Homo sapiens: one gene and its partner. The protein of the gene in region 1 interacts with the protein of each later gene in a pairwise test. Each region holds a gene or a part of one and is shown on either strand. Other genes may lie near its edges. The genes, in order: RBP5 and AGR2.

Region 1 (8,783 bases):
CTCTTTGTTTTTTGTGTTTTTTTGAGACAAGTTCTTGCTCTGTCACCCAGGCTGGAGTGCAGTGGCAGGATCTCGGCTCACTGCAACCTCTGCCTCCTGGGTTCAAGTGAATCTCATGCCTCAGCTACCAGAGTAGCTGGGATTACAGGCGTGCACCAACATACCGGGTTAATTTTTGTATTTTTAGTAGAGACAGGGTTTCTCCATGTTGGCCAGGCTGGACTTAAACTCCTGAGCTCAAGTGATCCGCCCGCCACCGCTTCCTAAAGTGCTGTGACTATAGGCATGAACCATCACACCCAGCTTTCCACTCCTAAAGGTCACCGAGGGGGGCCCAAAGTTGTCTACAGTGACCTTTAGGGGAGAGCAGGGGTGGTAGCAGGATAAGTAGAGGTGAAATTGGGGAGGGCATTTATGAAGAATGGAGACTTTTTCCTCTGGATACTTCTGGCTGACCTAGAGGGACTTTTGAGAAAAAAGAGAGATTGGTTGGGAATCCTACCAGGTAATCTCATTTCTCCTCTTTCTCGGTTTCAAGAACAGCTGAAGTATCCTTAGAAATAAAGGGTCAGCCCCTCTGGGCCTGAGCATTCCAATCAACCTTTATTGAGTTCTCCTTTAGGATAGGCCCCAAACAAGGAGCTCAGAGTCTTGAAGAGATAGAGGATCAGTAAATAGGTAACTGTGACACCAGGCAAGAGTGAGGGATGGCAGTGGGGCGGGCAGAGTGAAATCTTTAAGGAAGTTGGGAGTTAATTAGATTGGAGAGAATGGGAAATTTCTAGCAAGGAAAGAAACAGCTAGAAATAGCGGTAAAAGAGAAAGGCAATTAGTTCTGAAGGGCTCTAACCTAGAGTATATGTGGTGGAGGCAATTGAAGAGTTGATTCACAGAGACCCTTGTATGCTGAGTTAAGTGTAACAGATGATGTAATGTAATAGATCATCACTGAAAGGGTGTAAGTCAGAGAGTGACATGATCACATTTATGTTTTAAGTAGACCCTGTGGCTACAGCATGCAGATTAGAGGAGGGTTAAGCGTGAGAACCAGCTGGGTGCAGTGGCTTAGGCCCGTAATCTCAGCATTTGGGAGGCTGAGGCGGGAGAATCACTTGAAGTCAAGAGTTTGAGACCAGCCTGGGCAACACAGTGAGACCCCACCTCTACCAAAAAAAAAAAAACACAAAAACACAAAAAAGCAATTTCAGGCACCAGGAAATGAAGGCCTGAATTAGGGTGGTGATAGAGAAAGGTTAGGAGGGAACACAGGAGAGCCATTTAGAAGAGTGATGCTCAACAGAAATAAAATGGGTCAGGAGCCATATTAGAAAAGTAAAGAGAAATAGGGGAAATTAATTTAAATAATATATTTTAGTTAACCAAAAATATTCAAAATATTATTATTTCGGCATGCAGCCAATATAAACATTTCCGAAATGCTTCTTTTTATTTGGCATTGTCTGAAAGTCCACTTACAGCATCTAGATTTGGACTAGTTATATTTCAAGTATTCAACGGCCATCTGAAGTTAGCAGCTGCTATACTGGGTAATGCAGAAAAGCTACAAAGATTTCTTGGCCGATTAGATGTGGTGGTGGTGGTGGTGGTGGTGTGTGTGTGTGTGTGTGTGTGTGTGTGTGTGTGTGTGTGTGTGTGTGCTGGGAGCCTAGAGGTAAGGAAACAAGAGATATTGACCATGACTCCCAGGTCTCTGGCCTGGCTGGTTATTGCCATTAGTGGAGAGAGTAGATATAAAAGTGGGGTAGGTTTGGATAGGAAGACAGTGAATTTGAATTTGACCTTGGCATTCAAATGGAAATTGGTTCCAGGACCCCCACCTCACTAAATCTGCTGAATAAAATGGCTTAGTATCTGTAGAGAAACTACATACATCCCCCTGTGTACTTTATTATTATCATTTTGATACAGAGTCTTGCTCTGTCACCCAGACTAGAATGCAATGGCATGATCTTGGCTCACTGCAACCTCTGGCTCCCGGGTTCAAGTAATTCTCCTGCCTCAGCCTCCCAAGTAGCTGGGATTACAGGCATGCGCCACCATGCCCGGCTAATTTTTGTACTTTTGTATTTTTTTTTTTTTTTTTTTTTGAGATAGAATTTCGCTCTTGTTGCCCAGGCTGGAGTGCAGTGGTGCGATCTTGGCTCACTGCAACCTCTGCCTCCCAGGTTCAAGTGATTCTTCTGCCTCAGCCTCCTGAGTAGCTGGGATTACAGGCATGCGCCACCATGCCTGCCTAATTTTTTGTATTTTTAGTAGAGATGGGGTTTCTCCATGTTGGTCAGGCTGGTCTCGAACTCTTGACCTCAGGTGATCCGCCCGCCTTGGCCTCCCAAAGTACTGGGATTACAGGTGTGAGCCACTGCACCTGGCCTAATTTATGTATTTTTAGTAGAGATGAGGTTTCACCATGTTGGCCAGGCTGGTCTTGAACTCCTGGCCTCAAGTGATCTGCCTGCCTCAGCCTCCCAAAGTCTTGGGATTATGGGTGTGAGCCACCACGCCCAGCCTTTTCCCATATGCTTTAAATCATCTCTAGATTACTTATAATACCTAATGCAATGTACATGCTCTGTAAATAGTTGCTATACTGTATTGTTTTTTATTTGTATCATTTTGTATTGTTATTTTTTATTTTTATTTTTCCCAAATATTTTTCCATTTGCAGTTTGCTGAAGCTGTGGATGCAGAACCCATGAATATGGAGGGCCAACTGTATTTTGTAGGCAGTTGAAAACATTGCCCTGGAGCTCAGGAGATGGCTCTGGCTGGAGAATTCATGCCAAGGGCAGCCTATAGATGGAAGCAGAAGGCATGGGTGTAGATGATTTAGCCTATGGATAGTGGGCAGACAAAAGGGAGAAGACATTAAGAACAAAACTCTGCGGAGAAAACTCCAGTTTAAAGGATTAATAGGAGGACTAGGATCTGCAAAGGAGGCTAAGAAGGAATATGTAAGAAGTAGAAAGAAATGCAGGAGAGTGAAGTTATTGATGCTAAAGTAAAAGGGACTCTGGGTGACCAACAGTGTCACAGGCTGGAGGGTGGGCAAATGTTTGCTCTTCGGTCTGGGTTGGCCTGTTCTTTGCCCTTTGGGCTGGTGATAAGAGGGGGCAGGGAAGAAGTGGGAGAGAGACAGGGAGCACCAGGACCTGTTAGTTCTGGAGACTGGTATCCTGGGGACTGCATTCCCTGCTGTGGTGACCATTCCCCTCCTCCCCGCTGCTCTGGCTGGGGAAGGTCACTTTGTTTTGCCCCATGTTGTTAGGAGTCTCCTGTGATGCCTCCTTCCGGCCACCGCCCAGCCAGGGGAAATGTACCTGGCATTTTCGTCCGTCCACGCTCCTGAGGTCCTCCTCAAACTCCACTCCCACATCAAACTGCACAGTGTAGTTTCGGAAGGTGCTGAGCGTCCTCACCGTCATGTGGTTGCCCTGGTGTTCGATCTCCTTGTCCGGCTTCAGCAGCAGCGCGATCTTCCGCACAGCCAAGCTGATGTCTGTGGGGGCTGCCTGTTAGTAGGGGTGCTGCTAGCCAGCCAGGAGCTCCTCTGCCTGCAGCAGCCCCTCAGGGCTGTGAGTTTCCCTTCTTTGGGTCTGGGACTGTGGATTCACCCCCTCCTACCAATGCCTGGTTAGAAATGGATCCCAGGTCTGGTGCCAGCCGCCTGAGCCTTTCCACAGTGTCCAACCCCGGGCATTCCCTCTTCTCCATGGGACCAAGAAGCAGGAAGGAAGAGGGGAGAAAGGGAGTGACAGGGGTCTGGGAGGGCGAGGCCATTACTTAGGGCTTGCAGGTAGTCCTCCATGTTCTTCTGCGAGACAAAGCGGTAGTAGCCAGTGAGGTTGGGAGGCATTGTGTGGATGAAGGTTTCAGGAGAATGCAGGAGACAGGGTGAGGAAGGAGGGGGTGTTGTCTGGCAGGTGAGGCTGAGAGATTCCAGCCAGCTCCACACACAGAGACAGGATGTGTAATGGCCGGGTTACCAGGGCTTTTTATAAGGCTGGGGCCCTGTTGCAATAAGAGTCCCTACCAGACTTCTTCCCTCCCCGCATGGTGAGTTTGGGGGTGGTGTCTCCAGCCTGAAGGAGGGGCAGGGATTTGGCAAAGTTGCGCCTGACCTTGGCTTTTCCTGAGGAAGGAACCTGGAGCAGGATCCTTCCTGAGGAAGGAACCTGGAGCAGGATCTGGGGCTGTCAGTCATCCAAAACTCAGCCATCCAAAGGTCAGTGTTGGCCTCCACCTCATTTCTGGCAGGCTTGGGAACCGTCCCAGGGCCTGAGGGGCAGTCTTTCCTGGGAGACACCTGAGGCTGGTCTGGCTGTGTGAGGTGGAGATGAGTTCCAACAATATCCTGAGATCCTGGGACTGAGTGATGTTGGAAGATGTGAGGGGAGGGGGTGAGGATGGCCAGCTGCCACCATGAAGAGCACCCTGTAGGCCTGGCTCTCAGAGCTCCCTCAGGTAGTGTGCTCAACTGGGACCCCAAAGTGGCATTCCAGACTCTTGGTCCTAAAGAGCCATTAGGAGGGAGGTGGAGCCCGAGGGGTGCTGAGTTCAAAGTCCGGAACAGACAGCCTGAGAGGAGTTTGTTGGCTATTCTGGAGAATTTTATTCTTTTTGGCTTGGGACCCAGGGGGTTTTCTCTCCCTCTGAGTCATCGATGAGACCGTAACCCCCAGTCCCCAGCCCTAGGACAGCCCATGCTTTCCAGATGTATTTCTGTGAAGGTGGGGTGGAGGCGCCTAAATAATATTGTGCCCCGCCCCCAGCTGCCCAATTCTCTCTCGAACCTGCCATCGTCCCGGGCTTCAGAATCCACTGGGCTTGGTTCATCATGGTTTAAGGTGAAATTCGGGGCGAAGGAGGCAGGACAGGTAGGCAGGAGGAGGCGGCCGGTCCCGACAGGTGCGTGCGCGAGGGGTGCACGACGTCCTGCCCCTCCTTGGGTCCCAGAGCCTCGATACCGCCCTGCGGACCGCCCTGTGGCTTCCTCGCAGCCCTGGGCTACAAATGCCAGGATTTCTCAGGCTCAGACTGAGGGTTTTACTTCACCCTTCCCAGAGGGCACGCAGCACGGATCTGTGGATGGAAGGGGCTGTGGAAACAGGTTATGGCAGAGTTGGGGGGCGGGGTGACGCGGTGCCACCCCTCCTGGCCGCCCTCAGGTCCCGCTGACGTCTCTCTTCCCCACCCCCTGGCTTCTGGCTTCTTTCTCCCCACGTCCCTCTTCTTTCCCACCCCCTCCGTGGCTCTCCAGCTTCCTCCCCAGCCCCCGCAGTTCCTCGGCTCCCCCAAAATTGCAGCCAGGGGAAGGAGCCTTGAAACTCTCCAGCCCCGACGCCCCAGTCTCATTGGCTCCCTCCCCCGCTGCAGCACCTGGTCCCCCCCCCTCCCAGTCACCTGATTGGCCGGCGGCCCCATCAATCGTTGCCCGGCTGTGCTGACGTCATCCTGCAGTAGCGGGGTTGGGGTGGGAGTGAGAGAGTGAGGACGCTGGGCTGGGGGAAACGGGAAGCCGCTGCAAGTCCACCGCCTCAGCTACCCAGATTGGGATCTGCCCAGGCCCGCTTTATGGACTAGTGTGGGCGGCAGGCTCCTTTCCGTCCCTGCCCTGCTGTACCCCGCTCCTTGGAGACCCCCTGTATCCCTCCCGCAAGGTGGAATCCGCAGGCTGGAGGCTCCCAGGGGAGGCAAACGCCTGGCCCTGCCCTGCCCCACGCCGCACCATGACCCTCCTGCTGCTGCCCCTTCTGCTGGCCTCTCTGCTCGCGTCCTGCTCCTGTAACAAAGGTGAGTGAGGTGGGGGTGGGGGTACCGAAAGAGGGGCGTCGGGCAGCGCCGTGCGGGGTGGGGGTGGGAAGGAGGTGTCGAGGCTCCCTGGCACCTGACAGGTGTCTGGCCCTCTTCTGATCACCCTCCTTCCCATCCGTTCTCAGACCTGCTCCGTCTCCTCTCTTTCTCTTCCCCCAGCTACATCTTCCTTTCTGGTCCATCTCTACCCATGCGTTTCTCTTGCTGGTCATCTTGCTCCCATTTGGTCTCCATTCCCGTCCTGGGGTCTCTATTCTCCCCTTCCCCTAATTTCTACACGCTGGTGGCTACCTCGGGTCTGGGAAGGACTGCCCCCGAGCCGGTGATAGGCCTCTCCCCGCGGCTCTCCCTTTCACTGGCGCATGCTAAGGGTGTGTGGCAGATCCATCTGCTTCGCCTCCATCCCATCCTGGGGAGAAAGTATTTGCTGCAGTTCAGCAATTCGGAGCACGTATGTTTTTTGCGTGTGCCTCTGCATTCAGACCCTTTTGCCTGCATCAGCTGGGCTGTGGGTTACCAGAGCTGCCCTCTCTGGCAGACAGCGGATACATTCAGCTGGGCGGGGCTGTCGGACAGACGGAGAGGGAGGACGGGAGGGAGGGCTTGCGGGCAGAGGGCTCAGGTAGGTGGAAACGGATGGAGACTGGCAGGAAAGGGCAGAAGTGGGTGTGTGGGGGGCGCTAAATGAGTATGAGAGGGAAAGCTGAGAAGGAGAAGACCGGAGATGAGGCGTGGGAGGGGGTAAGGAGGGGATGGAAAAGGGTAAAGGTGGAGGCAGAAAAAAGAGGGAGGAATGAGGAAAATCAGGAAAAGAGTGAGTCAAGGAGGAGCCCGGGAGCCTAGGAGTGAAAGGGAGCAAACGCAGAGACCGCAGGGGGCCAGGAGGAGAGGAGACAGAGGCTCAGAGACCTGGGAAGACAAGCAGGGTGGGAGGGGGAGCTGTGCAGAGGGCGCCCAGCCCTGCCCTTCCACCGCTCTCTCTTCCTTGCCTGCATCTCTGACCTCAGCCTCGCCTCCTAGCCTCCTGCCACTTCCTGTACCGCCTCCTGTGCACCATCTTGTGGCTTTCTCCTCAGCATTCAGGAAGGGGTTATGGTGGTCATCAGTAAGAAAGCCTTCCCATGCCAAAGGCTTGCTGGTGTGTGGTTGGAGGAAAGAATGGAAATCAGGGTTTCTTGCTCACCGTGAGATACTGGGGATGAGGTTCCTTTTGGTGACTCAGTTTCCCTCTGCCTCATGATTGTGCTTTGGGAGCCTGGGTGTTGGCATGATGATGGGATTAGAGCAAGCGTGGAGGCTGGGGTGGGGGGTGATGTGGAAGGGGAGGAAATATGCTTCCCCACAGCCCCTCACCAGGCTGAATCTGGTAGAAGATGGGGAGATTTGGAGTCTGATGAGTCCCGCATCCATTCTGAATTGGCTGGTGGTTGAAGGGAAGAGGGATGGGGTAGATAAGAACTGGGATTGAGTTCTGTATAAAAAGTGGGTTTCAGGGAATGTGGTTTGATGGTCTTGTGGAGGACATAGAAATGTGTCGGTTTCGAATGTGTTCTCTTGGGTGTGGGGGTGGGAAGCAGGGACGGGATTTGTCATGTTTCTAGGCCAGCCCGATAATCCCTTAGGATGACGGCTCTGCTGGGTCCAGTTGCTCAGCATTGATTCCTCTGCTCCATTCCTGCCCCTCTCTGCCCCCTCCCTCTGTCCTATATATCTTCACTTCTCTCCTTTCTCCCCATCCTGTGTTCTGGGAGAGTGGCCTCAAGTTGGGGCTTGGCTGGGAGAAGTGCAGAGTGAAGGGATCAGGACTGAAATGAGTTGGGAGGAGGATAAGCAATCAGGATCTCAGGAAACTTCTAGATCTTTTTCTAGTTTCAATTCTGCCCTTAATCTATCCCTTCCCTTTCCCAGGGCCTTCTCACAGCCCACCACTGCTCCCTGAAGTTCCCTGTCTCCATTCTCTAGCACGTGAAATCGCTAAAGAACATTCTCCACTTCCTGACCATGGTTCCCATGGAGATAGTGATCCCCTCCTCTTCACCCCCAGGGCAGGTTGTTTCCATGGGAACTGTCTACCCTGCTATAGGAGAAGGCTATGACCTCCCGCAGACCCTCTGACTCCTTTAGTAGCTGATTTCTTGTCCTCAACCACCCGCCTCCTGTAAGGTGCTCCTATAGGGGGTGGAAAAGGTGATGGTGCTGGGGTGTGAGTTGTCTGGGTCAACAAGGGTTGTTGTGGGAGTAGAGGCCCTGCTCACAGGTGCTTCCTCTCCTCTCCCTGGGGTGGGGCCAGCCAACAAGCACAAGCCATGGATTGAGGCAGAGTACCAGGGCATCGTCATGGAGAATGACAACACGGTCCTACTGAATCCACCACTCTTTGCCTTGGACAAGGATGCCCCGCTGCGCTATGCAGGTAATTGGGATTGGGGGATGGCAAGGCAGGGTAGGACAGAGAAAAGTGGGTGGGAGGGCCAAGAGCAAGGGAGGGAGGGAAGGTCCTGGGAGTGATGAGAAAGTAAGGGAAGATAAAAGTGGGCTCAAGGAGGGGAATGGTCTCCACTGAAGAATGGAGATTGAGTCAAGGATGCCAGAAAAGGACATGGCCAGGCAAGGGTTAAACACATCATGATTTTGTCAGATCTCAGGTCTGGAGGCTCTGGGAGGTTGCTGCTCAGGGAAGCTGGGCTTAGAGTTGCGTGTTTGATCATTAATGCTTTTGTGCCTACAGGAGAAGGGACAGGGCTTTGGGAGGAGAGGTGGAGCTGGACCCCAGGTGGGGAGACTGAGGGTGGGGAAGGAGACACAGCAGCCTCACTCCTCCCCTTCTCCCCTTTGCCAGGTGAGATCTGCGGCTTCCGGCTCCATGGGTCTGGGGTGCCCTTTGAGGCTGTGATCCTTGACAAGGCGACAGGAGAGGGGCTGATCCGGGCCAAGGAGCCTGTGGACTGCGA
Region 2 (8,911 bases), on another chromosome or scaffold:
GACTAGGATTCCTTCCAGCTTAGTACAGGGTATAAAATTTCTGCTCACCAGGAAGAAAGATTAGATTATGCTGTAAAACAAGTGTGGAGAGTTACATGCCAAATCTCAAGCTGTGGGCTCCTTGAGAATGGCTAAGCATAGAAACTTGAACACAAGAGCAAACGTTTGAGGGTTTATAAATCCCTCAAAGAGATCCTAGGATTGGGTTCAGTATATAAGTGAACCCTCTGAAGTAACTGTAAAATTTTGCATATGCCTATATATGTGTATCTTACCTGCAGATAAATTCAATAGATTTCATCATCCAGATCATGTAACTTATTGTCCAAATCATGGTACTTTTGAGAATGAAAGAAGACATTCTCAATTATTATACCCAGCAACAGGCTTAAACTGAGGCTCTCCTGGGCAAACTGAGAAGTATAATCACCTCATTCATGACCCCAAAAGGTAATACACTACTGCACCAGAACACTTAGCTTTTCATTATTTCAACCCAAGAACCCTTCATGAATTTTCGTTTAAAGCCACTGATTTTTATACAATCAGTGTATTCTCCTAGTGTCTAGTTACAAGTCTCGCCGCATTTGGCACCAGTTGTTGCCTTGAGATTTGTAGCTCCTACTGGACTTGGATCCAGGGCTATGACACTATCCTGCCTGTCCTCACACTTTATACTTTCTGTGCTCTGCAAGTATTTCTTTTCCTCACTCCTAAATGGACAATCATTACCAAAGTTGTATGCTGGTCCTTTTGCTCTATACTTTCCCGCAAGAAACACATCTAATTGTATGACATTAAGTTTAACATATCAATGACTGGTTCTCAGCCTTTGACACATATCATGGTCCCAAACTTTAGACCCAGGAACCTTCATCCACCCAAGCAGTAAATCTGCTCCTCCATCACTAGTCTCAGGAAAGAATACAAAGAAGAGTAAAGCTGATAAGCTTACTCAAAGAAAGGTTTTGCTAATTATGTTTGCAAATCTGCTCTGTTGGGCATTTAGAAAGTTTAAGAGAATTAGATATATAAGTACAGTTTAAACTATTTTTAACAATTTCATTACTGGATATCAATTAAAACTCCAGAAACTCTAAACCATTCTGTGCACAAAAGCCCAATTCAGAAATTAAAATAAATTCAAATGGTAACCAAGTTTTCCTCTGTCAAAACACAAATTTTTATGTGTCCATTTCTCTAAGCTAGAGTTAGGGAGAATTTATTCAGCTATTTGGTCAGCAGTTAGATATGTTTTTGACAAGTCTTCTCTGAGGCAAACCCTTTGAGTACAAGAAGTCATTTGCACTTCCCTCTGCATAAGGCTCATAATAATTCAGTAATGTGGAATTCTATGCATCTACAGGCTTATCTCATTATTTCCTGACATCAGAAGGCAGCCTGATGGACTGAAAGAAATACTGGATTAATTATCACCAACTATGGAAAATTTTAGATCTTCTCTCTGTTCATCAATTTTGTGGCTTTGCGCTAATTATGTCCACTCACCTGAGCCTTTTTACTTTTTTAAAAGAAAATAATGAAGTCTGGTGAGATTGTTATAATGACAAATGAATATTTCCAATGAATATATGTGAAAAGTTTAAGACTTGTGATAGGCTATAATCAAAGGGTAATCCAACAAAGATTCTGCTGTCATAGACTGAGACCTAAATGATCATAATACAGAGAAGTAATACATTCTGTATTACTAACTAATATTTTTGAGTGCTTACTATGTGTTATGTACCATTCTAAGCACTTTATGTCTATTATCTTATGTAATCTTCCACAGATCCTATATAGTAAAAAAGTAGGGATAGGAAGACCTACAAGTGAGACAACTAAAGCACAGAGAAGTTAAGTAAGTTGCCTGGATTAGTAGAGTATGTAACAGTCAGGAAACTTGATTCAAACTCGAACCTATCTGAATCTACAGCTTGCCCTCTTAACCCTCACATGCTTCCTCTTGAGGGTAAAGTCTAAACTTAGAATGGCATTAAAGGCCCAGGCAAATAGCCCCAAAACACCCCTCCAACCCTATTGTCTATGAGCTACCCAGATGTCTCTCACTTCAGCTAGGCTCGTCCTTAAATATCCCACAAATATATTTTGCAAATTCTATATCACCGTCTCTATTTGGAAATCTTGCTTTCTGCCGTCAAGTTGAGCACTCTAGTAGGTAGCAATCTCTACTCTCTCTGAAAAATAATCACACCTGACGTCTATCCCACTTACTTGTTTCTTGTTGCGTGCCATTCTCATGTGAATGGCTAATTTTTAGTGTTGTTCCATCTTAATTCTTCAATCAGATCGTAAGTAACCTTAGAGTAGAAACAGTGTTGTAAACTGCTACATGTTTTCCCCATAGCATGGCCCATCACTCCGAATTGCAATTATCTATGTGTGTGTCTGGCTACCTCAATAACTGACCATCATTTTTTCATTTTTATATATTTAATGCCTGGCACAATATTTGCTACATAAACAGAGTTGATGAATACTTGGTGAAGAAAATAAATGAATGAGTAAATGAAACACAAGAGTTAGCTACTCATGCATGCTAGATTACACAATAATTGCCAGTTATAAGTCTCCTGTTTTAACTCAAAAATAGGATATAATCCACTTTAAAATATGCTTGAATATGGATGCAGCTGGAGGTCATTATCCTAATCAAATTAATGCAGAAATGGAAAACCAAACACCACATGTTCTCACTTAGTAGTAGCTAAACATTAGGTACACATGGGCACAAAGATGGGACCCATAGACACTGTGGACCCCAAAAGGGTAGAGGAAAAGAAGGGAGAAAGGGCTGAAAAACTACCTATTGGGCGCTATGCTCACTACCTGGGTGATGGGATCAATCGTACCCCAAACCTTAGCATCACGCAATATACCCATGTAACAAACCTGCACATGTACCCCCTAAATTTAAAAGTTGAATTTAAAAATATAAAATAAAATATGCTTGAATAAATGCCTCTAAAATTATAATGTAATAAACATTTAAAACACAAAGGTATAATATCCACTTAATTACAACCATTGTTATAGGATCCCTGGTACCAAGCTTAGTTTTACTTACTATAATATTAGACCGGTATATCAAATTATCAAATCCTACTTCAGGAAGTCCTACTCAGGTATTATCCAAAATATCTACCTGATAGCGACATATTTTTACAGTATCAGGCAAACCTGAAGGACTGATCACATGGCATCACTGTTAAAAGTGATGAAGTTTAATAGCATAAAACAAAAACCCCTCCTTTGCTTGTCTCAAAGCATACTATATGTACCATCTACAGAACCCTAGTTACCTCACACCAAGACAGATATGCCAAAGATTCCACAGCCTCAATAGCATGTGTAGGATATCTGCTAATAATTACCTCCTCCTTGCCATCCGTCAGCCACTATGACAAACTCTGGGTTTTTCCCGACATGAGATTAGGCACATGAGTATAGAATAATTATATCACTATAATTAACTGTAACAAATCAAAGACTTTTTTTTTTAAGTTCCGGAGTATGTGTGTAGGATGTGCAGGTTTGTTCCATCAGTAAACGTGTGCCATGGTGGTTTGCTGCACTGATCAACCCAACAACTAGGTCTTAAGCCAGCCTGCATTAGCTACTTTTATCAAATGTTATGGGCTGAATTGTGTCCCCCCCAAAAATTCATATGTTGAAGTCTTAATCCCCAGGACTTCAGAATAGGATCTTTACAGAGGTAATTAAGTTAAAGTAGGTCATTAGGCAGGACCCAAATACAATATGACTGGTGTCCTTATAAGAAAAGGAAAAAAATGACACAGACAGGTACAGAGGGAAAAACCATGTGGCAATACAGGGAAAAGTCATTTAATATTCAAAATGGTCCCGTATGTTAATATTATCCCCATATTATAGATGGAGAAACTGAAGTTTTGGGGATGTTAAATGAGATCTCAGATCATCCTATGAGCAAGCACCAGGATGCAGGATTCAGATGGGAATCTCGTGACTCCAAATCCCATCCACTTGTTACTTTCAGTGGATAAGGGACTGAAGGACTTTGGTCCCAACTCTGCCCTAAACTAGTTGTGAGACCTTCAAAAAGTTATGAATTTTTTGCCATCTTCATTTATTCATCTGTAAAATGAAAGACTGGAATTGAATATTACAAGGGTCTATCTAAGGGCCTGCTAGTTTTAAGAATTTTGCTCAAATCATCGTTTTCAAACTCCTGAAGAAATTACTTCTATAAATTCATTAGAATTGAAAGGAAATTCAGTATTTGGAGAATCACGATTTTGCCCACAGAATTCAAGGATTTATTGGAAAAATATACATACTTGCAAATGTTTTTGAAATATTATGACCTTAACTCATTTTAAAAAGTCATTTATATAGGGCTTGCATCCCATTCATTAACTTTCTGTTGTTAACATTTTCTTCATTCTGAGCTTTTAAAGACTGCACACAACTTCATGAACAAAATACAGGATTAAAATTTTCTGACAGAAAATTTAAATTCCAGTTTTAAAATCTTCAGGGAGTAATTAAATGGTCTTGAGGGGAAAAAAAACTTGGTTGCAGACCTTAGTTTTTAGGTCTGAGAAAATGGAGTAAATGGCTTCCTGCTTGCGTGGCAGGAAAGTTTGCCTTTAAATAAGAGATTATCTGTGAAATACCTTTGAACTCTGTGGAGGGAAGTTGCTGCATACATTCAATGGCAAGGCATTTATTACAAGCTCACGATATTAGGCTGTTTTTTTTTTTTTTTTTTGCCAATACTTCCTCAGTTTTGAAAAATTACGTGGGTTACTTGATTTGTATTTTTTTTCATACCTGTAGAAGTTAGGGTGCATTGTTTTGACAGGAGCAGGGAAGTATTGTAGAAAATAATTTTTATCATAATGGAGTATGGCAGGTTATATGACTGCGAGGATCAGAATTGTGAATCATCTCTTGTGTGTCTTCAAGTAAATAAAGGCAATCTGCCCACGGAGCAGAAAAAAAATCTACAAACTACAAACTCTGTCCAATCATGTAAAGACAAATCAGCCTTCAGGCAAATCAAATGTCTTCATTCAAAGTCTACCTGGATTTGGCACTCTGCCCATCGTTTCAAAACCTCTTAACAATACGTTTCACAAATAGTTAAAAACATGCATACTGAAAAGCATACTTTTGCAATGTTATTTTTAAAAACAAGGAACTCTTTAACCCAGGGAAGATAATCACTTGGGGAAAGGAAGGTTCGTTTCTGAGTTAGCAACAAGTAAATGCAGCACTAGTGGGTGGGATTGAGGTATGCCCTGGTGCATAAATAGAGACTCAGCTGTGCTGGCACACTCAGAAGCTTGGACCGCATCCTAGCCGCCGACTCACACAAGGCAGGTGGGTGAGGAAATCCAGGTAAGGCTCCTGACAGCAGCTTTAGAAGGGTACTTGCTGGAGTGAATTCGGGCCTCTGATTGCTATATAAAGTTGTAGGCAATCAAGCAACAGAGAACTGCAAGTTTCCAAAGGCAATGAAGTAGGATACGGAAGGGAAATCATGGAATTTCCACAAAAGTCTTACTGGGGCCTTTCTTTGGCTAGAGCTGGCACAGTGTGACGTTCCCGAGTTAGTTCAGAGAAATGCTTTCTCTTTTGCGAAACAAAATTTCCAAGAGTAGGTGAATCCTAGGATTTTTCAAGCCTGGGACAGGGTCCAGGGATTTTCGTCTCAGTCACCATCTAAAGCTTTCTTTCCCACGGGCTAAAGCAAAGCCCCATAGGCTTCTCCACTATGACACCTCAGCTCGGATTGCCCGCTTGGAATATATTATTGCAAATCAGAAAACAGTTTTCTTTCTCTTTTTGCTGCAAAGACATTCTTGTTGCCTCTGCAATCTTTAAATTCATGGGATAGGCTATTAGAGGAGAGAGCTGGTTGCTTTCCTGAAGCATCTACAAATAGGGACACTAAAATGTCTTGCAAGTTCATTATTTGCTAAAGACAAGAAGACAGGGATACGGTGATGAGTAAAAAGTGCTGGCTTCACATAATGTGTGTGTGTGTGTGTGTGTGTGTGTGTGTACCTATGTCTGTGTGTGTCTCCAAATTATCAATATTTTCCATGGAATTGTGTTTTGAGGTGGTTTATGCAGGAAATTTGCAGAGCAGAATCTATTCACATTACGAAAACTCAGTGGAGTGAATCTCAGAAAGTCACCCCACAGCAGGATGTTTGTACAGCAGGAGTTATGTTAGCCTTCCTTGAGTCATCCTGCCGTAAAACACAAGCAATATATCAATAGTTCCAACCTGTGATCTTTGGAGATACTGCAAGGTCCTAATAGCTACTTGGAAAACAAGAACTGTAAATGGGCTAAGTAAATAAAAATGCCTTACCATCAATTTACTATTTTTTAGAATATATATAGATGCTGTTATAAATAAAAGATAAAATCAAATGTTTGTTGATAGATTCAAAGAAATTATTTGCCATATGTTTCTGAACCAGCCAGTATTCCAAATGTATAATTATTCTCATGTAAAAGTTCTTGATTTTTTTAACATTACAAAGAAGTCTTTATACAAAGAGGGCTGAGAATTGTTGACTTACAGTGAACACTTAGGTTGTTTTTGCAAAACTCTAGAAGACAAAAGTTATTGGCATTTCCACATCTTTGTAGGTATAGAAAATGAACAAAGTATATCCCTGATTTTTGCTTACATCTTTTCTGAGTAAGACATTTTGTGCTTACATACTATGGATTAGTTAATCATTGGTCAGTTAAATACAAAACATCATTTCGATCTGGTAGCTTAGCAACACTTAAAAAAAAATCAGCTAATGCTTAGCAAAGGTTTCCACTCAAGATATTAGATTATGAAAAACTTCCTGCTTAACAATAGTAATTCCTTGCAGAGTTTATTTGACTTCATTCAAAACCATTCACCAATACTAGAGTTAGGTGCCGGGGTTTCATATTTCCTTTTTAGCACTTTTAGTGTTTGGTTTTATCAGAATCCCAAATCTCCAGCCTTCCATGTTACGGCCCCGTGGACAACCTTAGTGACTTGCTAGAGCAACTCACTTTGCTCCCTCCCTCCCTCCTCACTCACAAAACTTATCTTGCCATGTACTTTCCTTTTCATAGGCTTTAGTTTTTCCTGGGAATCAACTGTGGCATACCAGAAAGAAAAAGTAATTTAACTAAGATATCAGCTAGGCGTGGTGGCTCACTCCTGTAATCCCAGCACTTTCGGAGGCCAAGGCAGGAGGATCACTTGAGGTCAGGAGTTTGAGACCAGCCTGGGCAGCATGACAAAACTCCATCTCTACTAAAAAATACAAAAGCATAGCCAAGTATGCTGGCACGTGCCTGTAGCCCCAGCTCCTTGGGAGGCTGAGGAGGGAGGATCACTTGAACCCAGGAGGTGGAGGTTGCAGTGAGCCACGATTGTGCCACTGTACTCCAGCCTGGGCAACACAGTGAGCCCTTGTCTCCAAAAAAAGTAAATGTAAATTTTCTTAGCTACTAGAGTATGTATATCTATTTTCTCAAAATATATCTCTATTTATCTATTTCTATATAGATATATATATCTATATAGATAACTCTATATCTATAGAGATCTATATCTTTTTGTCTTTATCTATGTGGATCAATAGACAGCTATCCATACTATATACAAACAGTCCCAACTTACAGAAGTTTGACTTAATTTTTTGACTTTATGATGGTGCAAAAGCAATACACATTCAGTAGAAACTGTATTTCAAGTATCCATATAACCATTCTGGTTTTTACTTCCAATAGAGTATTCATAAAAATTACTTGAGATATTTAACACTTTACTATAAAATGGGCTTTGTGTTGGATGGCTTTTCCCAACTTTAGGCTAATGTGAGTGTTCTGAGCACATTTACGGTAGGTTCAGCTGTGGTGTTCAGTGGGTTAGGTGTATTACGGTAGTTCCCCCATTATCTGTGGGGGTTATGGTCCATGACCCTCAGTGGATGCCTGAAACCGCACATTAGTACCAAACACTACATATGCTATGTTTTTTCCTATGCATACATATCTATGATAAAGTTGAAATTATAAATTAAGCACAATAAGAGATTAATAAGAGCTAATAATAAAACAGAACAATTACAACAGTATCTTATAATAAAAGTTAGGTGAATTTGGTCTCTCTCTCAAAATATCTTATTGCACTGTGCTCACTTATTTTGGACGCGGTTGACCGTGGTTAGCTGAAACCGCAGAAAGTAAAACCCTGGGAAAGGAGAGACTACTCTGGATGCATTTTGACTTGCAATATTTTCAGTTTACAATGGGTTTATTGGAACATTACTCAATTGTAAGTCAAAGACCACCTGTATTCTTAGGAAAATCCCATGGAACAGAGCTATTTACGCCAATCTCGTATGTCCAGTCTCAGCAGAGCCTCAGTTTCTGGTATATTCCACCGTTGTGGGGCAACCTGCAGACCCTGAAGACTGCTAGTTCAATTTTGTTTACTGATTTTGGTTGGTTTTCCATACTAGAGTTGCCATGGAGAAAATTCCAGTGTCAGCATTCTTGCTCCTTGTGGCCCTCTCCTACACTCTGGCCAGAGATACCACAGTCAAACCTGGAGCCAAAAAGGACACAAAGGACTCTCGACCCAAACTGCCCCAGACCCTCTCCAGAGGTAGGAGTCAGCTTCTTGTTGGCTTCCAACTGCTACTTAATTGGAAAAGATTTCCTCTCTCTTGGTGCTTAAACCTGGTTCTAACCTGGTGCCAGGTTATTTTTGGTTGTGTTCCTTCTAGACTTATCACTGTTTATAATTATTTCTACTTTCTCCAGGGGTTTTTCTTCTTCTTTAGTATAGGGTCTATTATCCCAGTCTTTACCATTGCTTTTCAACAGCTTT

The links.
Region 2: the proteins of RBP5 (region 1) and AGR2 interact in binary tests that used the Homo sapiens proteins (3 or more experiments, as listed by UniProt).

Annotation. Positions count from the first base shown.
Region 1 is NC_000012.12:7,124,902-7,133,684, forward strand, and holds the start of RBP5 (retinol-binding protein 5), read right to left. Parts: upstream 3,989-8,783; 5' UTR 3,875-3,988; coding exon 3,802-3,874; intron 3,518-3,801; coding exon 3,339-3,517; intron 2,853-3,338; coding exon of another isoform or gene 2,796-2,852; exon of another isoform or gene 2,598-2,795; intron 1-2,597. Other genes in the region: CLSTN3 (calsyntenin-3), read left to right, coding at 4,722-4,895, 5,679-5,811, 8,123-8,245, 8,672-8,783.
Region 2 is NC_000007.14:16,801,433-16,810,343, reverse strand, and holds the start of AGR2 (anterior gradient protein 2 homolog precursor), read left to right. Parts: upstream 1-5,344; 5' UTR 5,345-5,409; intron 5,410-8,540; 5' UTR 8,541-8,547; coding exon 8,548-8,686; intron 8,687-8,911. UniProt on the Homo sapiens protein: Required for MUC2 post-transcriptional synthesis and secretion. May play a role in the production of mucus by intestinal cells. Proto-oncogene that may play a role in cell migration, cell differentiation and cell growth. Promotes cell adhesion.